7 linked regions of the Homo sapiens genome follow. The protein of the gene in region 6 purifies or fractionates together with the protein of the main gene of each other region. This does not show direct contact. Each region holds a gene or a part of one and is shown on either strand. Other genes may lie near its edges. The genes, in order: PXMP2, MZT2B, RSPRY1, TTC33, RNASEL, SLC5A6 and SLC25A17.

Region 1 (3,500 bases), on a different chromosome or scaffold from region 6:
GCTCCTTAGAGCCGCAGTGCTGAGTACACATGTGTGCTGTCTGCGTACACACAGAACAAAATCCAATAGCAGTTTAAAAACCATCACGATAGGGTCTGGGTGCCCGGAATTCAGTTCTGATGGGCAGTGAGACTGTTCACCACCCGCCTTCCCTCCTTTGCAGGGGAAAGACGCCTCAGCCTTCGCCGCCAAGATGAGGGGGGGCTTCTGGCCGGCGCTGAGGATGAACTGGCGGGTGTGGACGCCACTACAGTTCATCAACATCAACTACGTCCCTCTGAAGGTGAGGGCCACGGGGCTCAGCCTCTGCTAACATTACTTTGTCAGCCTTTTCCTTCCTTCCTTCCTTCCTCTTTCCTCCCCCCCTCCCTCCCCTCTTCTTTTCTCTTCTCTTCTTTCTTTGGTAGTTTTCCGCTAGACTTAGTTTCATCCGTGTCTAGACTCCTCAACTACCCTTGGATTTTGCCCATGACCCTGAATCATTGCTAGTTCGGGATTCAGGAAGCAACAGAGAAGGGTGTCCCGAGTGGTCGTCTTTGCCTCTTCTGTTCGTTCAGCAAATTCTCATTAAAAGCCCCCATGCCAGGGATGCCTATGAGTTTTCTAGCCTTTGAAACATTCCCAGTCCCAGGAATGTACATGCAGGCAACTTGAATCTATGCTCCTGGGTTGCAGTCCTCAAACTTGGCCCAAATAAACTCTAGTTATACTTAGAAAAAGAAGGCCGTCACAGTAGCTCACACCTGTAATCCCATCACTATGGAAGGCTGAGGTGGGCAAATCACTTGAAGCCAGGAGTTCGAGACCAGCCTGGCCAACATAGCGAAACCCCATCTCTACTAAAAATACAAAAATTAGCCAGGCATGGTGGCAGGTGCCTGTAGTCCCAGCTACTCAGGTGGCTGAGGCACAAGAATCACTTGAATCCGGGAGACGGAGGTTGGAGTGAGCTGAGATTGTGCCACTGCACTCTAGCCTGGGCAACAGAGTAAGACCCTGTCTCAAAAAATAAATAAAATGTTAAAAAGAAACAAAGCATTCGTGGTCCCTGGGCTCATGAATTACAGCTGAGCCTGAAGGCAGGCACTGTGCGGCCATGGGTCCTGCCGCTGGCCTGGAAGAGCTGCCTCACCTGCAGCCATGGCAGCCACACCTGGGCAAGGGGTGGGCCCATCCAGGTGCAGAGTGAAGGCCTTCTGGGTAAGCTGAGCCTTTCCGCTATCCTGTGCATGAAGGAGCTGCTGTGGGGGCTGAGTCAAAGGTGTCAGATTGGGGCTGGGCTGGTGGTGTGGAGGCTGGAGCTCCAGGCTCTGCCACTGGGATCAACTGTCTTTATGCACAGCCAGGGTCCCCAGGACCACTCCCACACTGGGAGGATGGGGTGCAGCACCCCCTGCAGCATGGCAGGATACCCCCAGATGCTACAGGAGGAGGCCTGGCAGAGCCTGCAGGGGCCACGTGCTTCCCTCCCCCAGAAGGTATGCCGCCCATCAGGGTTTTTTACTGGTACTCTGGGCGGGCATCTCTGCCTGCTGCCCCAAAGCTCCAGACCCCTAGAAAGACAGCAGCTGTGTGGAGCCTGCATTGTTGGTGCAAACAGTCCAGGCACAGGGCAGGTGGCCCTTCTGGGAAAGGTGGGTGCCGTCCCAGCCCAGGCTGCTGCTAGGGAGGACCTGAACAGGCCTGCAGTGGCTGGACCTCAGCTGCAGAGGGCCTTCCTGCATTAGCACCGGCTCTGAGCCCTGCCCAGGAGGGAGGAAAGGACCAGGGTGACCCCCGAGGGAGAGGAGGGAGGCGGCCCAGTGTGTGCACACTGCACACACCACAAACACACCAAGAAGCAGCAGGAAACCAGGGGTGCACACAGACAGGACAAAGAGGCAGTTCACCCTTAGCCAAAGTTGCCAGGAGTTAAAGCAAAATAAAAAAATTTCCTTTGGCTTTAACAGTGGCCCTTCCCAGAGCAATTTCAGCTCTATGGGGCTGAAGCCAGATTGCCTTGAAGAGTGGGTGGGAATTATTTTAAAAATCACAAGTCTAGAACATGCTCTCAAAGTCTGTGGGGGCCAGGCATGGTGGCTCATGCCTGTAATCCCAGAACTTTGAGAGGCTGAGGCAGAAGGATCACTCAAAGCCAGGAGTTTGAGACCAGTCTGGGCAACATAGTGAGACCCCATCTCTATTTTATAAAAATGAATTTTAAAAAGTTTGAGAGAAGGTGAGAAGTGATGGAAGAAGGCTGGGTGGCAGAGGGGGTTCTGACACTCAGAGATGCGGCCATGGTGGGTGCAGACGTGAAGCTGCTTGTGGGATGGGCAAACACGCATGTCCAGAAAGAGCAGCTCTGCGGGGTCCCCTAAGGAGTCAGGGTGGATGTGAGCCCCCAGCACACTCACAGTGGTGCTTGGACAGAGGCCCTGCCCTCTGTGATGAGAGAGGAGAGAGAAAGTGACAGCTGAGCGGACAGGAGAGTGGGACATCCTGCCTCAAGCCCCCACGTGCCTCTCTGGAGGGCCAGGGGCTGGGACTGAGGGCAGAGGAAGTCAGGCGGGCATTTTAAGGGGATACAGGAGGGGCAAGTTTGGCCATGTGGAGGATGGGAGAGCATGCTGACTGCAGAGACAAAGACCTCTGGGCAGAGGGGGCTGGGGCTTGTCCAGCTGTGGTCAGCATCTGGGGAAGTGAGAAGGCAGGAAGGATAAAGGATTTTCCAGGGAGTGTGACTGAAGAACAGTAGGCTAAGGAAGCTACAGCCATGGGCCACTGGTTCTCGGGAATTTAGAGAAGGAAGCAGAGACAACTGAGAAGACAGACTGGCCGGGAACACGGAGGATCTGGGATGGAAGAGGGGAGAGCTGGGAAGCCGCGCCTCTGAGTAGCGTGGGGGCAGAGTCGCCATCCTAGGTGGGTGCAGGTGTATGCGGAAGCAGCATTCATTCAGCAAGCGTTTCCTGAGCAGTGACTGTGCGCCATGCTGCTAGACTCGGAGACGCGGCGATTAACCAGACACATGGGCTGCTACTTTCATAGCACCACGTGCCAGGGAGAGACTCAGCACTGGGCCAGAGGATTCTGGGGAAGGGTGAAGCTGCTGAGTCACCAAAGCAGGGCAGTGGGATGGTGATGGGTTAGAGGAGGGAAGGTCTGGGGCCCCTCCGCTGTTCGTCAGCTGTGTCCCCTGAGGAGGGTGCAGCCACCTGCATGATGGCTGGTCCTGGAGTGAGAGAGGCTGAACCAGGAGCTAAGGTGTGCGGTGAAGGGGGCAAAAGGAGAGTGACTTGGCTTTGGGATTCCTGGGCCGCTGTAGCCTGTGAACACTGTAACTAGGGGACCGTTTTTCTTCTCCACTCCTCTCTGCTAGGGGCCTAGCACAGCGTTTGGTACGAACAAAGGCTCAGTAAATGCAGTAATGGATGGGTGGTTGGACCAGCTGACCAACAAACGGGTAAACAAATGAACTGGGTGACTGAGGCTGGATAACTGGCCACGGCCTCCCGCTG
Region 2 (2,983 bases), about 100 Mb from region 6:
GATCACACCACTGCACTCCAGCCTGGGGGACAGAGCGAGACTCCGTCTCAAAAAAAAAAAAAAACTAGCCAGGTGGGCATGGTGGTGGCGCCCATCTGTAGTCCCAGCTACTTGGGAGGCTGAGGTGGGAGGATCGCCTGAGCCTGAGGGGGATGTTGCCGTGAGCCAAGAGCTTGTGACTGGACTCCAGCCTGGGCAACAGAGCAAGACCCTGTCTCAAAAAAAAAAAAAAAAGAAAAACCGCTAGCAATGGAGATGGGAGGAGGCTTCAGAGCCCAGAGAGCAGCAAGGGTTACACAGGGGGGTAACAAGGGTTACAGCAGGAGGGGGGTCGGCAGAGCCCCACACGTGTGAGCTGGGGCAGTGGGAGGGCGTGGGTGAGGCAGAGCGCTGTCCAGGTGCTGGTAGGCCGGGGGCGGGAGGAGGCAGGTGGGGGGGCACGGTCAAGATGTATGTGAGGGTTGTGGCACTGGAAATGCAGGCATAGAGGGGCCAGGAGGATTAGGGGGTGCTGTGTGAGCGAATGGGGGCTCCGAGAGAATTTACCCAAGGACAGGAGTGGCCTGGAGTGCTGGGACCCTCAGGGTCATTTGTTCCTTGAGGGCTCTGTCCTGGAAGCATAGCCCAGGTCCTGTAGGCTGGGTGGCAGAAAGCCAGGACATGAGGGCACCGAGGCCCTGTGGAGATAGAGTGGAACCTGAGGAGGAGGTGGAGGGGAATGGGGCAGATGTGGGGCCACACCAGGAGTGTGCTGCTGAGTGAGAAGCAGAGGCCACAGATGGAATGCTGAGAGCTCTCTGAGGCCCACATGTTACAGCATCTGACCACACAGAGCTCCGGCTGCCCTGGTAATGGCAGAATCTGGGGTGGAGGACATAAGGGGGGTTGTTGGAGTGATCCGGCTGGGGGGCATGGAGGCCATAGGTTTCCCACAGGACTCGGGTGTGGAGTTCTCCAGGCTGTGGGCCAGGCCCTCTCAAGCTTGCCTCTGAGCTGCAGCAGGCACCCTGGGTCCTCTGGATGCCTGTCCCCCAGCCATCCAGACAGCCTGTGGGGACAACCACCACCAGATTCACTCATACCCACAGGGAAGGGGAAATAGAAAACCCCAGAAGCACAGAGGGGCAATGCTTGTCTTGGTGAGAGTCTGGAGTCATTGAGGGAAAAATAAATTCAGTCAAGCGTTCTATTTAAGTTTAGAGAAACTATACGTTTTAAAAGTTGTCCAGAGCATGCATGTAAGATGACGTTTGGAGTGTGGAAGCCATCTCACCTGAGCTGTGCTGCCTGATACAGGAACCTTGAGCCACACATGGCTGGCATGGTCATTGCACTGCGTGTGGTATGCACAGCAGATGCCAAATGACCGGTACAAAAGGGAATGCAAAAAACCCACCACACCTTGGGAGTCCACAGCTACTGGATCTCTTGAGCTCAGCAGTTCAGGACTAGCCAGGGCAACACAGGGAGACCCAATCTCTACAAAACACAAAAATTAGCAGGGCATGGTGGCACACATCTGTAGTTCCAGCTACTTGGGAGGCTGAGGTTGGAGGATTGCTTGAGCCTGGGAGGTTGAGGTTGCAGTGAGCTGTGACTGCACCACTGCACTCCAGCCTGGGTGAGAGAGTGAGACCCTGTCTCAAAAATAAACAAAAAACCCCAAAGTGAATGAGGCTGGGCATTGGTTCACACCTGTAATCCCAGCACTTTGGGAGGCTGAGGCAGGATCATCACTTGAAGCTCGGAGTTTGAGACCAGCCTGGGCAAAATAGCAAGACCCCACCCATTTCTACAAAGAAACAAGAAAAAGAACAGAGGTGAATGCAACATCTTATGAATAACTTATGTACTGATTACGTATTGAAATAATACGTTGGATATTTTAGATTAAAGTATTTGAGCTAATTCTGCATTTTCTTTTACTTTTTATTTATTTATTTATTTTTGAGACAGTCTTGTTCTGTCACCCAGGCTGGAGTGCAGTGGCACACTCATAGCTCACTGCAGCTTCAACCTCGTGGGCTCAGACAATCCTCCCACCTCCTCTTGAGTAGCTGGGACTACAGGTGCACACTACCACACGTGGCTAATTTTTTAATTTTTTGTAGAGATGGAGGTCTCACTGTGTTGTCCCAGCTGGTCTCTAGCTTCTGGCCTCAAAGGATCCTCCCGCCTTGGCCTCCCAAAGTAGTGGAATTACAGGCATGAGCCACTGACCCCTGCTGAGCCAGGCTGTTTTCAACATTCAATGGTCATTGACTATCTTTGGCGTTTAGGAGGGCCCTCCAGGGACCAGGCGTAGGGGCATCAGTCACCCCGCCCTCACACCCCAACCTGCAGCCACACTTGGTTCAATCCCACTGTCTAGCCCGTCTGACTCAGTAGCCCCTCCCGAGGGAGCAGGGCTAAGCAAAGCTGGTTTCCCCACTGCAAGGCACTGCAGGCCATTCTATTCTGGGCCTTCTCATCCTTCATAAAGTGAGGAGGCCTGAACAGGGCTCCCCACTAACCCTGAGAGCGCACAATTCCTGAAGATTTCCAGGATTTTCTTAGTATCAGTTATGGCTTAAAGTTATGTTGGTTTCACATTTCCAGGGTTTGTCAACCCTGTCAGATTTAAAGATAAGCATTATTAGCCAGGTGTGGCCCCATGCTTGTAGTCCCAGCTACATCGGAGGCTGAGGCAGGAAGATCCCTCCAGGCCGTGAGTTTGGGGCAGCAATGAACTGTGATTGCATCACTGTGCTCTAGACCAAGTGACAGAGCAAGACTCAGTCTCTAAACCCCCCTCCCCCACCACTCAAAAAAAAAAAAAAGCATTATTTGCTCTTTTCTGCTTCCCTCTCATCCTTGTTTCCAGAAGGGACTGGGTCATTGCTGAGGGGAGGAGAGGAAGCTCAGATGGCAGCAAGCTGAAGGGAAGCCGACTCTGAGTCAGGCCCAAGTCTGCGGCCTGCCATGCTGCGTGCTGTGGGGAGCT
Region 3 (3,500 bases), on a different chromosome or scaffold from region 6:
TGCTGGGATTGCAGATGTGAGCCCCCACGCTTGGCCCCTTGCAATATTTTAAAAGAGAGTGACATAGTTATACAAACCTCTTTGTTTTTAACTTTTCTCAACATCGAAATCTGTGTTACTGTATATAAATCTACAACTGCTTCTGACTATTACAGAGTATTCCCTTGTATGCCTGAAAGTATTATATTTTGTTACATTTTCATCTGGTGATGGTCACTTAGGTTACTGCCAAATTTTTGTTCTTACAAACAGCACTGCAGTGAACAGCGCAAATATGCATTGATTTTTGGACCTGTGTAAAAATTTATCTACAACTGTTGGGTATATGCATACTTAATTTTATTATTGCCAGATCATTCTTCAGAAATACTTGCATCAGTCAATTATATTGTTTAAACAGGCAGCACCTAATGAGTACCTGAAATGACCATACTAATTCCCATATCACAAGGTTATTCTCTGGATTAAATGACTTAAGATGATAGTTTTTGGGGCTTTTTTTTTTTCCACACTAAAACAGAGACCCACAATATGTAAACAAATAAGTGGTGAGTTCTTAAGCAGTTAGAATTGTTTAATGGAAAACATCTCATTATTGAAGTTCCCCTGAAGGACTTTTTAAAGATTTCTGGGATCACACCACTGAATTAAGGTGTATAATGCCACTTTGGAGCAATGTCTAGAATGTTAAGTAGTTCCTTAAGTTTGGTTTTGTTTCTTGTAATACCATTTTATGAAGTCTAAGCATGTAGTGGTATTTCCAGAAGAAAACTTCAAAATGAAGATGCGTATATAGGCCCTTGCTTCCATAAGTCCTCAACCGGGATTGTCGTCTCTCTTCCTGGCATTTCTCTGAGGTAAGTATGAAGGTGATGTTGACCTTCCTGGCTTGTCTCAGTTGGCACTGGGCCTCTGAGTGTAAAGCTGAGAGTAGGCTGTGATCTCCAGTTTTACTCCTGTGCTTTTACCCCAGGACACATAGTAGTCTTTGTCTGTATCCACCTGCCCATTTTGTCTGTGGGTCATTGTGGACAGTGACTGGAAATGAGCACATATGGTATACATTCATCCTTACAGGTCATAGCTCAGGTTGTCTCTTCTATCTCTTTCCTTACATTTGTGTTCATTTCTTCTGTCCCTTTTTACCTCCACACCTCCAGTTTGAATTCTTATTTGGAATTGTCATTTATTATTTCCTCAGGTTTAATGCCTTGAATTTTTTTTTCCAGTGATCAGGAACCTCCCTATTCAATGATAACATTACACGAAATGGCAGAAACAGGTATTTTTAGTTTTGTTTTCATTACTTTATAATGAATATATAATAATGAAGAAAAGTAGCCACCTTTTGTTTTTTGTTTTGTTTTGTTTTGAGATAAAAGACTCCAAAAATACAGCATACATAACAATGAAAAAAGCCCTTACTGTATGGAAATTTCCCTGAATAGGTATAATAGGCAATGCATATTATACCTTTTTTTTTTTTTTTTTTTTTTTGGCATTGATGGATCTTTCACCATACTGTTCTGGAATGGAGAGGAGATTATTTATATATATATATATATATATATATTTTTTTTTTTTTTTGAGACAGAGTCTCACTCTGTTGCCCAGGCTGGAGTGCAGTGGCACGATCACAGCTCAACTACAGCCTCAACCTACCCTGGCCCAGGTGATCACCCCACCTCAGCTTCTCAAGTAGCTAGCACCACAGGCGCATGCCACAATACCCAGCAATTTTTCTGTTGTTTGTAGAGACAGAATTTCACCATGTTGGCCCAGCCTGGTCTTGTACTCCTGGGCTCAAGGGATCCTCCTGCCTCAGCCTCCCAAAGTGCTGGGATTACAGGTGTGAGCCACAGCCCCTGGCCAAAGATATTTTTTGTTCCTTAGTTTCCTAAGTATCATTCTGAAAACAAAGCCAACTGCTGAGTATACTTCATTTTCTCAGTTAACTCCTATGTAGTAAATAAGATGCTTAAAACTATTTTAATGTGAGAGCACAAGACCATAGCTTAACCTTTTTCCAAATAAAGGTACCCACAAATCACCAGACTCCTGTAACTTAAGATGTTTTTACTCCACCACGATGACTAGCAATTGATGATTATGTCCATGCCAAATATTAGCTGCTAAAAATCTATAGACCAAAAGTCTTTCTTTTAATGTGAATTGATCTCGTGTGACATATTTTCACATTTTAAAAATAGTGACTCCATCATATAATCTTCTTGATTTGCTCTTAGATGAAGGATGGTTGGATGTTGTCCAGTCTTTAATTAGAGTTATTCCACTGGAAGATCCACTGGGACCAGCTGTTATAACATTGTTACTAGATGAATGTCCATTGCCCACTAAAGTAAGTTAATACTTATCTTTTATGAAACTATCATTTGTGCTTAAGCACAAGATAAATGACCACAAAGAACATTTGATGTATTGTGTTTCATCTTTATACATTTGGGGTCTGTTTTATTCAGTATTGATTTTGTTATGTAAATTTATTTTGTATTATGAAGAATTATGTCCTCTTTTTTTTTCTTTTCCTCTTTGAGACAAGAGTCTCACTCTGTTGCCCAGGCTGGAGTGCAATGATGTGATCTTGGCTCACTGCAACCTCCGCCTCCCGGGTCCAAGCGATTCTCCTGCCTCAGCCTCCCAAGTAGCTGGGATTACAGGCACCCGCCACCACACCTGGCTGATTTTTGGATTTTTAGTAGAAACGGGATTTCACCATGTTGGCCAGGCTGGTCTTGAACTCCTGACCTCAGGTGATCCACCTGCCTCGGCCTCCTCCCAAAGTGCTGGGACTACAGGCATGAGCCACTGCACCCAGCCCTCTGTCTTTTTATTTATTTATTTTGAAACAGGGTCTCACTTTGTCACCCAGGCTGGCGTGCAGTAGAGCAATCACAGCTCACTGCAGCTGCAACCTCCCTAGGCTCAGGTGATCCTCCCACCTCAGCCTCCCATGTAGCTGGGACCATAGGTGCATGACCCCATGTCTGGCTAATTTTGTATTTTTTTTTAGAGATGGGGTTTCATCATGTTGCCCAGGCTGGTCTTGAAACTCCTGGGCTCAAGCAGTCAGCCCACCTCAGCCTCCCGAAGTGCTGGCATTGTAGGCGTTAGCCACTGTGCCCCGCCACATTCTCTATCAAGGCTTTATTTAATTGCTTTTTTTTCTTCTTTCTTTCTTTCCCTCCCTCCCTCCCTCCCTTCCTCCCTTCCTCCCTTCCTTCCTTCTTTCCTTCCCTTTCCTTCTTGCCTCCCTTCCTTCCCCGGCCCCGCCTAGGCTAGAGTGCAGTGGCACAGTCATGGCTCACTGTATCCTCAACCTCTCAGGTTCAAGTGATCCTCTTGCCTCAGCTTCCCATGTTGCTGGACTACAGGCATGCACCACCACACCTAGCTAAATTTTTTTTATTTTTTGTAGATAAAGGGTCTCACTATGTTGCCCAGGCTGATTTTGAACTCCTGGGCTCAAGGGATCCTCCCAC
Region 4 (3,500 bases), on a different chromosome or scaffold from region 6:
CCTGCCTCCTGAGTAGCTGGAACTACAGGCACACACCACCATGCCTGGCTAATTTTTGTATTTTTAGTAGAGACGACGTTTCACCATGTTGGCCAGGCTGGTCTCAAAACTCCTGACCTCAGGTGATCAACCCACCTCAGCCTCCCAACATGCTGGGATTACAGGCATGAGCCACCATGCCCAGCCAAATTTTTTTTTTTTTTTTTTGTAAATATAGGATCTTGCCATGCTACCCAGGTTGGTCCAAACTCCTGGCCTCAAGCAATCCTTCTGCCTCAGCCTCCCAAAGTGCTGAGATTATACGCGTGAGCCAGGATGCCCAGCCCCTCAAGTGAAATTTTAAAAACTCTCAATCATCTTCCTTTTGTCTGGAAATTATCACTTGTCCATCCCATTACTACCATTACAAAAGCGAAACAATAAAAAGAATCAAATGATGCAACTGAAATTTCTAATTAAAGATTTGCTCATGCAAAATATTAAAACCAATGGCTAAAATGAGACTTGGAAAACAGAGAAAACATTAGTAAACAAAATTAGTATTTATTGCACATTGGCATGAAGAAAAGCAAAAGCTGGCAATGAATTACACAGAGCCCGAAGAAGGGAAGCCACAAAGCTAGTTCCAGCACTGAAGGCTGAGAACCCTGGAAAGCCAACAGAAGAATCCTTCCTGATACTGTTACCTCCTGGTATTCATTACCTTTCCCAGTCTCCTTCCCTCTCTACCTTCTTCTTCAGGATAAATCCCTTATGTATTCCTTTCTCACCATCCCCATTCCCTCATACAGAATTTTTAACTCCCAGAACCATTCTCTTCAGCTTTTTTTTTTTTTTTTTTTTGAGACAGGTCTTGCTCTGTCACCCAGGCTGGAGTGCAGTGGCGCGATCTCAGCTCACTGCAAGCTCCGCCTCCCAGGTTCACGCCATTCTCCTGCCTCAGCCTCCCGAGCAGCTGGGACTACAGGCGCCCGCCACCACGTCCAGCTAATTTTTTGTATTTTTAGTAGAGACGGGGTTTCACCGTGTTAGCCAGGATGGTCTCAATCTCCTGACCTTGTGATCCGCCCGCCTCGGCCTCCCAAAGTGCTGGGATTACAGACTTGAGCCACCGCGCCTGGCTTCAGCTTTCTTATTCTCTCATCCTTCCACTTCTTAAAATCTCATTCTCATAAAGTCTTTTATATATATATATATATACACACACACACACGTATATATATATAAAATGTATACCATATACATACATATTTTATATATATATATCTCCTATAAACATTTTCCAATGTTCACATCCAACTCTTACAAAGTTTAAATAATTATTCATGGAGATATACCCAACTACTGACTTTTAATTTACTGCCTGTGCTATTTACATACATAATTTCCTATGGTTTTAGTCCATATGTATATATAGTAAGAATTGTTAGATATTAGAAATTCTAGCTTGCTTTCAATATATTTTACATAGTGTCCCTTCGTTATGACATTTTGAGTCATCTTTTTTTTTTACCATTCTAGTCTTTTAAGAGAACAGCTTAAATCTACATAAAAACAGAGAAGATTCCTAAAAATTACATTTAAATGGCAAAAAAAAAATACTTTCAATTCTTCTAAGAATTTCACAGTATTAATGAATAGAGCCATATCAACAGAAAAAAAAAAAGTCGAACTGGTACTCTTATTCAAAAAAATTTAAATATTAAATTATTTTTATTGGATGATTCAAAGTATCTCCGTCTCACCTGCAGTGTATTTTCTTTCTTTATAAAGGACAATCTTTACTAAATATTATGTCCTAGAGATTTGTTCCATTACCATAGACACTATTGGCAAAAGAGATAGTGATGTATAAATTTTTAATAAGGGAGGCAAGGAAAAAGTATTATATGATAGGGTTTTCTTCCCCTGTTAATGTTAGAAAACTAAATTCTTTGAACTCTTTTTTCCAACTCTGGTATGATTTAAGTCTTCATGTAAAAAGAGAGAAGTTGACAGTGCTAAATGGCAAGAAAAAAACAGTACTTGGTTAAAATGGTTTCTATCACTGTGAATCTCATTTAGATTATCATTAACTTACTTTAATCAAATCAATTATTTTCTCATACAAATTCCTTACTATTTCTGAGAATTTGACAAACACCTTTTTTGGTAAGTAGAAATAATGATACATTTATAAGAATGCCAGAAAAAAAGCTCAGTCATCCACAATTTACTAAAACCACTGTTAGTAAGTTTATATTTTGAATTTATCAGTAATTTTAGTCTTGCAAGAAACTTTTAAAATGTTTTATTTTGAACTGTAAAAAATAAAACCATTTTTAAAATCTTAATTTACTTAATAACAAGGAGGAAATTTGGCACTGTATATTAGATTTGCAAACACTTGTTAGGAAGTTAAATTTCGTTAGCTATCAGGTGTATATAGCCCTGCCAAAAGAAAAACAACAGGACAGCTGTCACAGCTAATTCTTACCTAGATAGCCTCTGCTACTAACAAGGTATAGTCCAGACAAATTGAGAGATGCATTAGGTACCAGTTTACGGTAAACATTACACAATGAGTATTTCATTTGCACACATTTCTACTCTTCCTCTTTATCCCCTCAATAAGCCTAACAACTTTTCAGTCTAAATGTTCATCACCATTACCCTCCCATATTCTACTGTCTTCCTTCCCCTGTATAATCTATCAGCGGTTTTGTCTCCACAGTGATACTAATACCACTTTATAATGTGGTAAATGTAATGATCCAAAGAACTAAGCCAAAAAGTTGCCTATTGTCTATTTAAATAAGGTTTACCAAATGCCAATGTTTTATGTTAAATTTTTTTTAATATCCATGATGTCAAGTAACTGAAAAATATTCTGATCATGATATAATTAGTGTCTATAATAAAAAAGATGTTCAGTAATACCTGTGAACTGTGTTTATGGATTAATACCTTTAAGAAGTAATTTGCTAATTGTTTTTTGTATAGACTTGATAAACGGCTATTCACTTTTGGGTTCAGTTAATCAAAAATATGTCAAAATAGACTGGGCATGTTGGCTCACGCCTGTAATCCCAGCACTTTGGGAGGCCGAGGCTGGAGAATCATTTGAGGTCAAAAGTTAAAGACCAGCCTGACTAACATGGTGACACCCCGTCTCTACTAAAAATACAAAAACATTAGCCAGGCATGGTGGCGCATGCCTATAGTCCCAGCTACACAGGAGGCTGAGACAGGAGAATCGCTTGAACCCAGGAGGCGGAGGTTGCCGTGAGCTGAGATTGCACCACTGCACTGTACCCTGGGTGACATCAAGACTCCATCTCAAAAAAAAAAAAAAGTCAAAATATACTTAAAATTTCTGCATTATAATAATCTGACTTCCTCACCAGGATTATCTCTCCTAAACCAAGTTGAGCACGTCCCAAAGTCTGCCAAGACTCCCATGAATGTGGATTTTGCTGGACGGCCATTTCTGCTGCATGTACTGCTGGGAACATTTCATG
Region 5 (3,500 bases), on a different chromosome or scaffold from region 6:
GTGCAAAGAGTTCCTTAGGCGACCTTCTTCTTGGCCTTTCCTCCTGGCCACGGCCTAATCCCTGGGGTCATCACTTTGCCTCTCCTGGCCTGGACTGACTTTTTTATTTGCTGCGTGACATAGCCTCAGACCCAAAGTCCCAGTTTCCAGCCAGGCTGTCAGTTCTCCCTGTGTTTAAAGCATTCTCCCTTTCCTCAATTTATCTATATTCTGTCCATACATTTGAGGCCCAGCTCAAATCTCTCTTCCTCCAAGCAGTCTGCCCTAACAACTGTGACTTATATGTATCTTTTACTCTTCATAAAACTAAGTGGTATGGGCGATATACTGCCTTGAAGAGGTCTGTATGCACACATCTGTGCCTTCCCTCCCTAACAAGCCTACAAATTCCTTGAGATTCCTCCCATCATCTTGTTTGCTAATAGCGTGCACCACTCCTTCCAGGGTTACCCAAATAATTAGTAAGCATCTTTGGCTTGATTTATGGCTTTTGTGCAGGACCTTGGACGGCTGGTCCTCTATGTGGTAAAGAAGGGAAGCATCTCATTTGAGGATCTGAAAGCTCAAAGTAATGAAGAGGTGGTTCAACTTTCTCCAGATGAGGAAACTAAGGACCTCATTCATCGTCTCTTCCATCCTGGGGAACATGTGAGGGACTGTCTGAGTGACCTGCTGGGTCATCCCTTCTTTTGGACTTGGGAGAGGTAAGTAAAACTTTGTGCAGATGCCACAGGCCTCCAGGATGGAAAGGGTAAGGTGGTGCAGACAGAAGTCTGGGCTGCAAATCAGGAGACCCAGGCTTTTTTCTTAGCTTGGGATTTACTGGCTGTGTGTCCTTGGAGAGATGACTTAACCTCTCTGGAGTCTGCTTTTCATTTCTGAAGAATAAGGAGGGGAAAAAAAGAGATGCTTGCCTCTCCTATCATGCAGAATTTTTGAAGACATGGTTGTATTACTTTTATTAAAAACCAAAATCTAGCCAGGCGCGGTGGCTCACGCCTGTAATCCCAGCACTTTGGGAGGCCGAGGCGGGTGGATCATGAGGTCAGGAGTTCCAGACCAGCCTGGTCAGCATGGTGAAACCCCGTCTCTACTAAAAATACAAAAGTTAGCCGAGTGTGGTGGCAGGTGCCTGTAATGTCACCTACTTGGGAAGCTGAGGCAGGAGAATTGCTTGAACCCGGGAGGTGGAGGTTGCAGTGAGCCAAGATTGCGCTACTGCACTCCAGCTTGGGGGACAGAGCGAGACTCCATCTCAAAAAAAAAAAAAAAAAAAAAAAAAAGAAAGAAAAACCAAGAAAGCACAAAAAACACCAAAATCTAACGGTTTTCTTTTTCTGGAAAAGGAAAGGGAGGGATGGGATGATCATGATCATTTAGATCATTTAGTCATCTTCAGCCGCTATAGGACGCTTCGGAATGTGGGAAATGAATCCGACATCAAAACACGAAAATCTGAAAGTGAGATCCTCAGACTACTGCAACCTGGGCCTTCTGAACATTCCAAAAGTTTTGACAAGTGGACGACTAAGGTATGAACAATTCCTATAGTGCAGGGGTTAGTCCAGGAATAAGAATTTGTGTAATGTTTTATGTTAGTTTTTCTATCTTATTTTACACCAGTGGCAAACCAGAGGCTCAAAGAGGTGATTTTGCCTCCTGCCCTCCCATCCCTATCCCCCTAGGCTCCCTGCCGGGGTGTCTACTTCTACTTTCAGAAGCTGGCCCTCCCTCTCTCCCATTCAGACCCATGCCCCTCTGATAGACTGTTATTCAGGCTCCCCCTGGATGGCCTTATCCCAGCCCATGAGCCTTTCCCTCACTTAGCTGATAATCCTATTGCCATTATGGCACGAGCAGCTGACTAAATAGAGCTTAATCCAAGGGAAGTGCTTCACCATGAGGTGTTTCAGTCCAGGTACAGCCTGGCTGCCTCCACTGCCTGTAAACAGCCCAGCTCTCAGGATCCACACACAGACCTACATTCTGCCTGAGGAAATAGACTATGAAGGAAAGATGATCTTTCAAATTGCTCTCTTTAAGAAAAGTTCCACCTAACTTGCATTAATTATAGTGGAACTCTACAAAATTAGTCATCATCTCAATCTAGTCAGTACTGTCAGAACTTTCATTATTAATTAACAAACATCTATACAATACCAATTATGTGCTAGGCCCATGCAAGGCCTTGAGCATACAAAGCAGAATACAATGTGTCCCTGTGGGGCTGAGAAGCCCATGGAAATGATGCTGTGGGATGTGTGCTGGGCATCCCAGGGACATGTGCAAAGCACTATGGGAGAACCCATAATCTTCAGGTCTTGGAAACCAACAGCTTCCTATCCTAGACCTGACCTGGGACTCTGCTTCTCCTAATTCTTGTTTTGCTTTCCTTCCCTCACTGGTCTCTAGACTGCACATCACACTCATAATTACTGGCTTACGGTCCATTTTCCTTGCTAGACTGTAAGTTCCATGAAGGCAGAGACTACCCATTGTCTTGTCAGTTATTGTATCCCTGGCATGGAGTAGATGTGCCATGACTCTTTACTAAATGAATGTCTATCAAACTTTGGCTAAAATTTTAACTTGTAGAAACAAAGAAATTTGAAAGCAGCTATGATAGTGATAGCTAATGATTACGTAGTATCATTATGATTATGTGGCAGCCATAGTTCTTGAGACTTTACATGAGTTACCACATTTAATCTTTAGCACAACTTCTGAGACAATCATCTATATTTTGCAGATGAGCAAGCTGAGGCACAGACAAATAATTTTTCCAACTACACAGAACCAGTAAGGGGTGCACCAGGATTTGAAGCTGGGAAGGATGGCTGCAGAGGCCATGTGCTTAAGCCACACCACTACATGAAGCTGTGATGGCATCAAGTCTACCAACTCATTTACTCACTGAGGAAATTGAGGCTCAGAGACCACACTCAAATTACTCATGCTGGACAGTCAGAGATTGGCAGACCTGGAAAGAGGAACTTGTTCTTTTATTTCCCAATTTATTGGTTCTTTTCCCTAAATTCCATGGGCTTATATTGAATTTTGATAGTCTTCAGGTTTTAACTTCAAGTTTTACCTTTTAATTCCCATTTTACACTTTGTTTTTCTGTTGACTTGCCCATTTTCATGGTCACACAATTAATTTTGTCAGCATAGGTCTGGAGCCCAAGTTTTCCAGCTTGTATGACTGTATTGGTTCTTGACTTGCCCCATCCTGCCACACATACGTGCTTGGCGTTTCTCACGGGTGTTCTGCACAGAGTGCACCTGGCCAGTCTCAGCAGCATCCTCACTAGCATTGCTCTTTCATCAGTTACTCTTCCTAAGTGACCCACTGGATTCTTGACTGTTGCATCTTGATCTCGTAGCCCAAACTCTTTCTAAATATGAGAGCCATCTATGGCTCTGTATCTATGAGGGTGACAAGCACAGACAAAGAGGATGACATTACTGTGATATGAAAGGAGTTGCCCTGGGACACCTGC
Region 6 (3,500 bases):
TACCCCAGAGGATTGCCTTTGAAGACAATATGATACGCTTGGAGAACAGACAGGGTGGATGGTGAATCCCTAGACCTGGGTTCTAATTTATGCTCTGACAATAGTCGGCTCTGTGCTTTTGGAAAGGTCACTTGAACCATCTGAGCCTTAGCGTGTTTATCTGTGAAATCGTCAGTGGTGGGGGGTTGGTTGTAATAGTGGTGTCCAAAGATTTAAGATTTTAAATATTATGATCCCTTCCCTCTTTCTCTGAGGATTGTGGTGTATTCTTGGGGGATTAACATTTCTTGTGCAGGAGTTAGAAAATCAACTTTCAACTTTCCCATGTTTTCAGTTCCTTCTTTCCAACTCCCTCCCGCACAGAGTGCCAAGAGTACTTTAGGCTGAAAGGCTAATCCATCTAGGAATGCTGTTGAATATGAGCTCCCTCTTCCCTGTTCTGGAGCCTCTAGGGCTGAGTTGGAGTTTGGGGGCCATAGGGTGATAGGGCCATTTGGAACACAGCCATTGGTTCCCTGAAGGGGCCAGAACAAATGACTGCTGAGCTTCACCCCACCCCCAATTCCTGATCTCTCACCTCAGCTACTCATAGAGCCAGATCCTCAGCTCTGCAGCTCCAGGCAACTCTGCCTCAGAACAGGGATTGCTTCTCCAGGTAGGTGTCTGTCCCCAGCAGGATACGACCACTCTCTTTGGCTGGTCCCTTTGCCTCTCAGCTCCGTGACTGGGTTGCTTCTCTCCAGAATGGAGAATCGTCATTCTGAAACCCTGACTCCAGCATGGTGCCCTCTCACCTTTCCCCTCTCACTTTTGAATCCAGCCGCTCTTCCTGCGTCTGCTGTTGACTGTGATGTTGCAGGTAGAGGGGCTGAGAGGTGGGTGGCAGCACTTATCTAGTGGTGTTGGGGAGAACCTTAAGAAAGGGGTTGGCCTGGGGACGCCTGAAATGGAGTCTGTGGCTGCCACAGAGGCAGTCTCACTGATGATCAGTTAGAAGGGTGACACTGGGGATCACAGGAGGCGAGGGCCGAGGCCAGGGGCAGTAGGGGAAGCCCTGCTGCCATTAGTCTCCATGCTGTGTTTCCTGCTGGGCTGTGGCGCCAGGCTGGGCTCTGCTGGCTTAGTGTATTGTAGTGACTGGGTCTGTGCCTTCAAGTGGGGCTGGGAAATTCTGCTAAGAAACTTAGGCTAGAGTTTATTTTTCTTTTGGTACTCGGGTGGAGACCTAAGAAGGTTGTTGAATTTCACAGCTGTGCATACTCAAAGGTCCTGGCCAAGTTATATTGTCTCCTGGCTGTCGCACTCTGATGCTTCTCCCTCACTTATGTCCCCTACCAAACCCATACCAGGGCCTCTAGACCTTGAAGGGCTACCACTATGCTGGCTGGTCCACTTCTGATGGCATGCGATGTACAAGGCCCAAGGGTGAATGGCTACCAAGGCCAGATAGGCCTCACTAAGAGCTAATTCCTTTGCAGCTCACCCTGGACAGTATCACTCCGTGGAGGAAGACTGTGAGACTGTGGCTGGAAGCCAGATTGTAGCCACACATCCGCCCCTGCCCTACCCCAGAGCCCTGGAGCAGCAACTGGCTGCAGATCACAGACACAGTGAGGATATGAGTGTAGGGGTGAGCACCTCAGCCCCTCTTTCCCCAACCTCGGGCACAAGCGTGGGCATGTCTACCTTCTCCATCATGGACTATGTGGTGTTCGTCCTGCTGCTGGTTCTCTCTCTTGCCATTGGGCTCTACCATGCTTGTCGTGGCTGGGGCCGGCATACTGTTGGTGAGCTGCTGATGGCGGACCGCAAAATGGGCTGCCTTCCGGTGGCACTGTCCCTGCTGGCCACCTTCCAGTCAGCCGTGGCCATCCTGGGTGTGCCGTCAGAGATCTACCGATTTGGGACCCAATATTGGTTCCTGGGCTGCTGCTACTTTCTGGGGCTGCTGATACCTGCACACATCTTCATCCCCGTTTTCTACCGCCTGCATCTCACCAGTGCCTATGAGGTGAGCAGGGACAGAAGGGAGAAGTGCGTGGGACACGGGTTGGGGTGGAGAGGAGGGACAGGCACATAGGAAGGACCTGGGACCCTAGACCTCCTCCACCTAATGAGAGGGACAGAAAACTCATTGTGTGTTTATAATTCTTTCTCAGTGATGTTAGGTATAGGGGCAGGATTGGAGAGGAGGGTGCTATGCCGAGTAGGACTCAGAGTGGGTATGGGTTGGATATTCCCTCATGTTCCTGAGCATCTTGAGGGAATTTGTCTGTGAGTTGTCGGGGTGAAGTCAGGAGAAAAATCTTTTTTTCTGTATACCCAGTACCTGGAGCTTCGATTCAATAAAACTGTGCGAGTGTGTGGAACTGTGACCTTCATCTTTCAGATGGTAAGCAGAATGAGGATAGAAACCGAGCCTAGGGCATGTTGGGGGACCTGAACGCAAGCATGCTGAGGGAATTGGAGTCTCCCCTGCTCTCAGATTGGCAGGATTGAAATTCCTGCTAGAGGTTAGCATCTGTGAGGACCCCAGAGGCATCCTGCTGCCCATGCCTTCCAATTCCAGCACAGATACTGTGGTGGCAGCAAGCCAGAATTTGAGAGGAGAAGGAAGAGGGAAGTGAGCCTAGGTGAGGGGAAGCCATGGGCATATTGGCGCTGAGGCCCATCTTTCTTCCTCTCTCTTCCCACCATTCTCCGGCCCCCATCACATTTTTTCCACATGCAACAGGTGATCTACATGGGAGTTGTGCTCTATGCTCCGTCATTGGCTCTCAATGCAGGTGAGGAGTCACACAGCCCCTGGCTTTCAGCCGTGGTAGGTTAGGAAAGCACCTTTGGGAGAGGCAGATGGAGGAGCGTATGTGGAAAAGAACCTGACCTTGAATGGGGAATTAATTCACCGCTTGGGCCCTTGGGTGGGTCTCTACCAGAGGAAGGCTTGGTCCACCTCAATTGACAGCTAGTAACATGTTACCATGCCCTATCTGAACTGGTTAGTCAATATCTTTTGGTGGAGCTCTGCAAACATTTTTCTCCGTTGTGGTGAATGATTTATTTCATTGTTAATGACCAATGCTTTATCTCTGTGGCATGACGTGATTGCCCTACCAGGGCTTCTCCCCTGGGGAACCCTTTTCCAGGGATAAGAATGTGGCTTCTATGCTTACAGTGACTGGCTTTGATCTGTGGCTGTCCGTGCTGGCCCTGGGCATTGTCTGTACCGTCTATACAGCTCTGGTAAGTGCAGTAAGCCGTGGTGTGGGGAGGGGAAGGGATGAAGTAAGGAGGGGACATGGGAAGAGAAGGAAAAGAAGAGATAAGCTGAGAATATAGATGAGGAGAATAGGTGAAATTCTGGGGTGGTAAGATTTATGATAGGATTTAGCAGTGGGGATGGTATATGAAGGTAGAGGATGGGATGGGAATGATGTCAACAGGGTCACAGCAATTACATGCCTAATGGCAGGAGAGTCCCCTCACTGGTAGTATGTTCT
Region 7 (3,500 bases), on a different chromosome or scaffold from region 6:
GCTGTAGGAAAATGTTTGATTTTTGAAATATAACCAAGATGAGGCTGGACAATAATAAACACTGGGCCGGGCGTTGCGGCTCATGCCTATAATCCCAGCACTTTGGGAGGCCAACGCAGACAGATCACGAGGTCAGGAGTTCGAGACCAGCCTGACCAACATGGTGAAACTCCATATCTACTAAAAATACAAAAATTAGCCAGGCGTGGTGGTGTGCGCCTGTAATTCCAGCTACTCAGGAGGCTGAGGCAGCAGAATCACTTGAACCTGGGAGGCAGAGGTCACAGTGAGCCAAGATCACGCCACTGCACTCCAGCCTGGGAGAGAGAGCGAGACTCCATCTCAAAAACTTAAAATAAAATAAAATAAAAACAAAACAAAACACTGAAATACTGGAAGACAGTGAATGAATAAATAATATGATTTTTCATCAGTGGCCATTCATTATTTTGCTTTTAGAAACCTGGAAGAAATTATCTTCTTTGAGTTTCAAATGTTCTGGTAAATCTAGTCATTTCTTAGCTTCCTCAAAAATCACCTTGAATTGCTGAAATAAGTGACTCTCATGAATCAAAGTTCTTTTCTGGTCTGAGGTAGCCAACAACGGCCACACTCAGGATTTCCCCATAGAAGTGCTCTTTGAAGGTATGCATGGTATGTGTTTCCATGGACTTCTTCGTATTCTCATAGTATGGGTTCCATCCTATGCTCACCACCATCTTCTGACCATCTCTACTTCCAGCACTGGCCCAACCATAATAAATGCCACTGGATATATCGGCTGGCAGATTATCTACCACTTGCTCAGGAAAATTAGCTGTGGGGGATGCCCAGCTGCTTGTAGCCACGGCCGAAGCCCCATACCACTTGGTCCCGGCAGGAGTATGACAGATGCTTCGTAATGCAGTCTGCTCGAGGCATGGGCTGCAGCCCGGTCCCTGCGTCCTACAGAGACACCGTCCACGCGGTGCCCGGACCCCGGACCAGCCACGGGGTGGGAAGGGGCGTGAGCTCTGTCTGCCGCGGGGGTGCACCAGGGGCCCGACGATGCCGATGACACGCCACGGAGGATCCCTGATGCCAGCGACTCAGGAGCTGGGTCTCCCAACCATTTTCATTTTCTTTCTTTCCTTCTTTCCCTACCTTTTAAAATATTTTATGTTTGTTTGTTTATTTAGAGGTAGAGTTTCCCTCTTGTTGCCCAGGCTGGAGTGCAGTGGCATGATCTTGGCTCACTGCAACCTCTGCCTGCCAGGTTCAAACAATTCTCCTGCCTCAGTCTCCCAAGTAGGTGGAATTACAGGCACCTGCTACCACACCTGGCTAATTTTTTGTATTTTCAGTAAAGGTGGGGTTTCACCATGTAGGCTAGGCTGTTCTCGAACTCCTGACCTCAGGTGATACACCCGCCTCAGCCTCTCAAAGTGCTGGGATTACAGGCGTGAGCCACCGCGCCTGGTCTAAAATTTATTTTTTATAGAGATGGGGTCTTGCTATGTTGCCCAGGCTGGTCTCAAACTGCGGGCTCAAGTGATCCTCCTGCCTTGACCTCCCAAACTGCTGGGATTACAGGGGTGAGCCACCACACCTGGCCTTGGACCATTTTCTGACAAGACAACAGATGATGCTCACAGTCAACACAGACCCGTAGACTCTCCTATGTGTCAACTGTAATCCTACCCCCTTCTCACACACTCAAGAAAACACTTTAGGCTGGGCGCGGTGGCTCACGCCTGTAATCCCAGCACTTTGGGAGGCCGAGGCAGGCAGATCACCTGAGGTCAGGAGTTTGAGACCAGCCTGGCCAACATGGTGAAACCCTATCTTTACTAAAAATATAAAAAATTAGCTGGGCATGGTGGTGGGTGCCTGTAATCCCAGCTACTCAGGTGGCTGAGGTAGGAAAATTGCTTGAACCCAGGAGGTGGAGGTTGCAGCAATCCAAGATTATGCCACTGCACTCCAGCCTGGGCAACAGAGTGAGACACAATCTCAAAAAAAAAAAAAAAAAAAAAAGTGGAAGAGTGAACTTTAAAGTTAAAATACAACAATTAAGGTTAGTAGGCTATTTATTATATGTGTTACTTTAACTGACTTTTTAAAATTGAGCCCTGAAAAAAAAAAGAAAAAAATTGTTCATGAGCCCTGAAAAAAAAATTTTAGACAAGTGGAAAAAAGTAAAAAATGAAAGCTAACTGCCCTACTATACCAGTCCAGCTGTGTTAGGTATGGGGGAGTCTGCTGTAATCCTAAATTGCACTAAGAGTTAGAAAGATGAACAGGACAGAGAGAGTAACACAGGGGTGGTATATATCTGGTGGGTAATGGGATGGCAGACACAGCAAATAAACCGCTTTGGACAATTTAAAAAGCAAAAGATTTCAACATATAGTCCATGAATTAGAAGTTTCATGGAAAGTTATATGAGTTAGTCCCTGTAAGTTATAATCTTTCAAATGCAAATACATATAAACTAATCTAAAATGATTAAAATCAAAGTATTACAAATAACTGGTCTCAAGTATAGAAGATCCCACTAGATTGCCATTTGTTGTAATTTATGTAAAAAACAAGTCTTTTTCTGTACAGGAACTATTCTAATTTTTTTCCCCAAGTGAACAAATCTCAAACTTGAGTTCTTTGAGTCGTGATACTCTTTGAAAACTACTCTCCTAGAAAGGCTGCAAAACTGTGCAAAGTGGGTTCATGAGGAAGACCTCAAAGGGAAGATCAGACTATAGTGCAATAGTCCAGGTGAGCAATGATAAGGTTTGATTTGGGGAAATGGCTATGGATATGGAGAAGAGGAAATGGATCCAAGAGACAGTGAGGAGACAGACCAGTGGTTCTTGATGGCCAAGCAGATGTGGAGGGTGGGAAGGCACGAAGAGCCTGTGATGACTCCTAGACTTCTATCCTGAGTTATTTATCCAAAATTCAACTTCTCTCCCCTTCTCTCTAAGCACATGGCTGGTTCCTCTGGCCACCAGCCTCCATCCTGAAGCTATCTAGGAGCCCACCAATAGTAACTTTATTAGCCTAAACTCAGAGATAGTTCAAAGGGGCTCATTAGGAATAACAAAAGATACTACTACTCAGGAAATTCCAATGGTTTTAGGAACTGTGCCAGGAACCAGGGACAAAGGCCACATACATTTTTTATTATACCACATACAGACATCCTACAACTTCAGAGCAAAAAAATGTAATAACCTGATTAAAAAATAGACAAAGAACCAGAACAGACATTTCTGCAAAGATAATATACAAATGGCCAACAAACATATGAAAAGTGATGTTCAGCATCACTAATCATCAGAGAAATGCAAATCAAAGCCACAGTGAGATATCACCTCATACCCATTAGGATGGCTACTATCATAAAACAGAAAGTAAGTGTTAGTGAGGATGTGGAAATATGGGAACTTCTGTGTACTGTTGGTGGGATTATAAATGTTACAGTGTTATGGAAAACAGTATGGAGGTTCCCGAGAAAACTG

What was found.
Region 1: the proteins of SLC5A6 (region 6) and PXMP2 purify together in Homo sapiens (affinity purification with mass spectrometry; one large-scale study listed by BioGRID and IntAct). This does not show direct contact.
Region 2: the proteins of SLC5A6 (region 6) and MZT2B purify together in Homo sapiens (affinity purification with mass spectrometry; one large-scale study listed by BioGRID and IntAct). This does not show direct contact.
Region 3: the proteins of SLC5A6 (region 6) and RSPRY1 purify together in Homo sapiens (affinity purification with mass spectrometry; one large-scale study listed by BioGRID and IntAct). This does not show direct contact.
Region 4: the proteins of SLC5A6 (region 6) and TTC33 purify together in Homo sapiens (affinity purification with mass spectrometry; one large-scale study listed by BioGRID and IntAct). This does not show direct contact.
Region 5: the proteins of SLC5A6 (region 6) and RNASEL purify together in Homo sapiens (affinity purification with mass spectrometry; one large-scale study listed by BioGRID and IntAct). This does not show direct contact.
Region 7: the proteins of SLC5A6 (region 6) and SLC25A17 purify together in Homo sapiens (affinity purification with mass spectrometry; one large-scale study listed by BioGRID and IntAct). This does not show direct contact.

Annotation. Positions count from the first base shown.
Region 1 is NC_000012.12:132,701,087-132,704,586, forward strand, and holds part of PXMP2 (peroxisomal membrane protein 2), read left to right. Parts: intron 1-163; coding exon 164-283; intron 284-3,500. UniProt on the Homo sapiens protein: Seems to be involved in pore-forming activity and may contribute to the unspecific permeability of the peroxisomal membrane.
Region 2 is NC_000002.12:130,185,262-130,188,244, forward strand, and holds part of MZT2B (mitotic-spindle organizing protein 2B), read left to right. Parts: intron 1-2,983. UniProt on the Homo sapiens protein: Required for the recruitment and the assembly of the gamma-tubulin ring complex (gTuRC) at the centrosome.
Region 3 is NC_000016.10:57,206,829-57,210,328, forward strand, and holds part of RSPRY1 (RING finger and SPRY domain-containing protein 1 isoform 1 precursor), read left to right. Parts: intron 1-764; coding exon of another isoform or gene 765-857; intron 858-1,229; coding exon 1,230-1,282; intron 1,283-2,246; coding exon 2,247-2,359; intron 2,360-3,500.
Region 4 is NC_000005.10:40,724,962-40,728,461, forward strand, and holds part of TTC33 (tetratricopeptide repeat protein 33), read right to left. Parts: coding exon 3,384-3,500; intron 1-3,383.
Region 5 is NC_000001.11:182,579,257-182,582,756, reverse strand, and holds part of RNASEL (2-5A-dependent ribonuclease), read left to right. Parts: intron 1-498; coding exon 499-704; intron 705-1,399; coding exon 1,400-1,532; intron 1,533-2,749; coding exon of another isoform or gene 2,750-2,803; intron 2,804-3,500.
Region 6 is NC_000002.12:27,205,769-27,209,268, reverse strand, and holds part of SLC5A6 (sodium-dependent multivitamin transporter), read left to right. Parts: intron 1-1,478; 5' UTR 1,479-1,618; coding exon 1,619-2,011; intron 2,012-2,326; coding exon 2,327-2,392; intron 2,393-2,734; coding exon 2,735-2,786; intron 2,787-3,175; coding exon 3,176-3,243; intron 3,244-3,500. UniProt on the Homo sapiens protein: Sodium-dependent multivitamin transporter that mediates the electrogenic transport of pantothenate, biotin, lipoate and iodide.
Region 7 is NC_000022.11:40,788,347-40,791,846, forward strand, and holds part of SLC25A17 (peroxisomal membrane protein PMP34), read right to left. Parts: intron 1-3,500.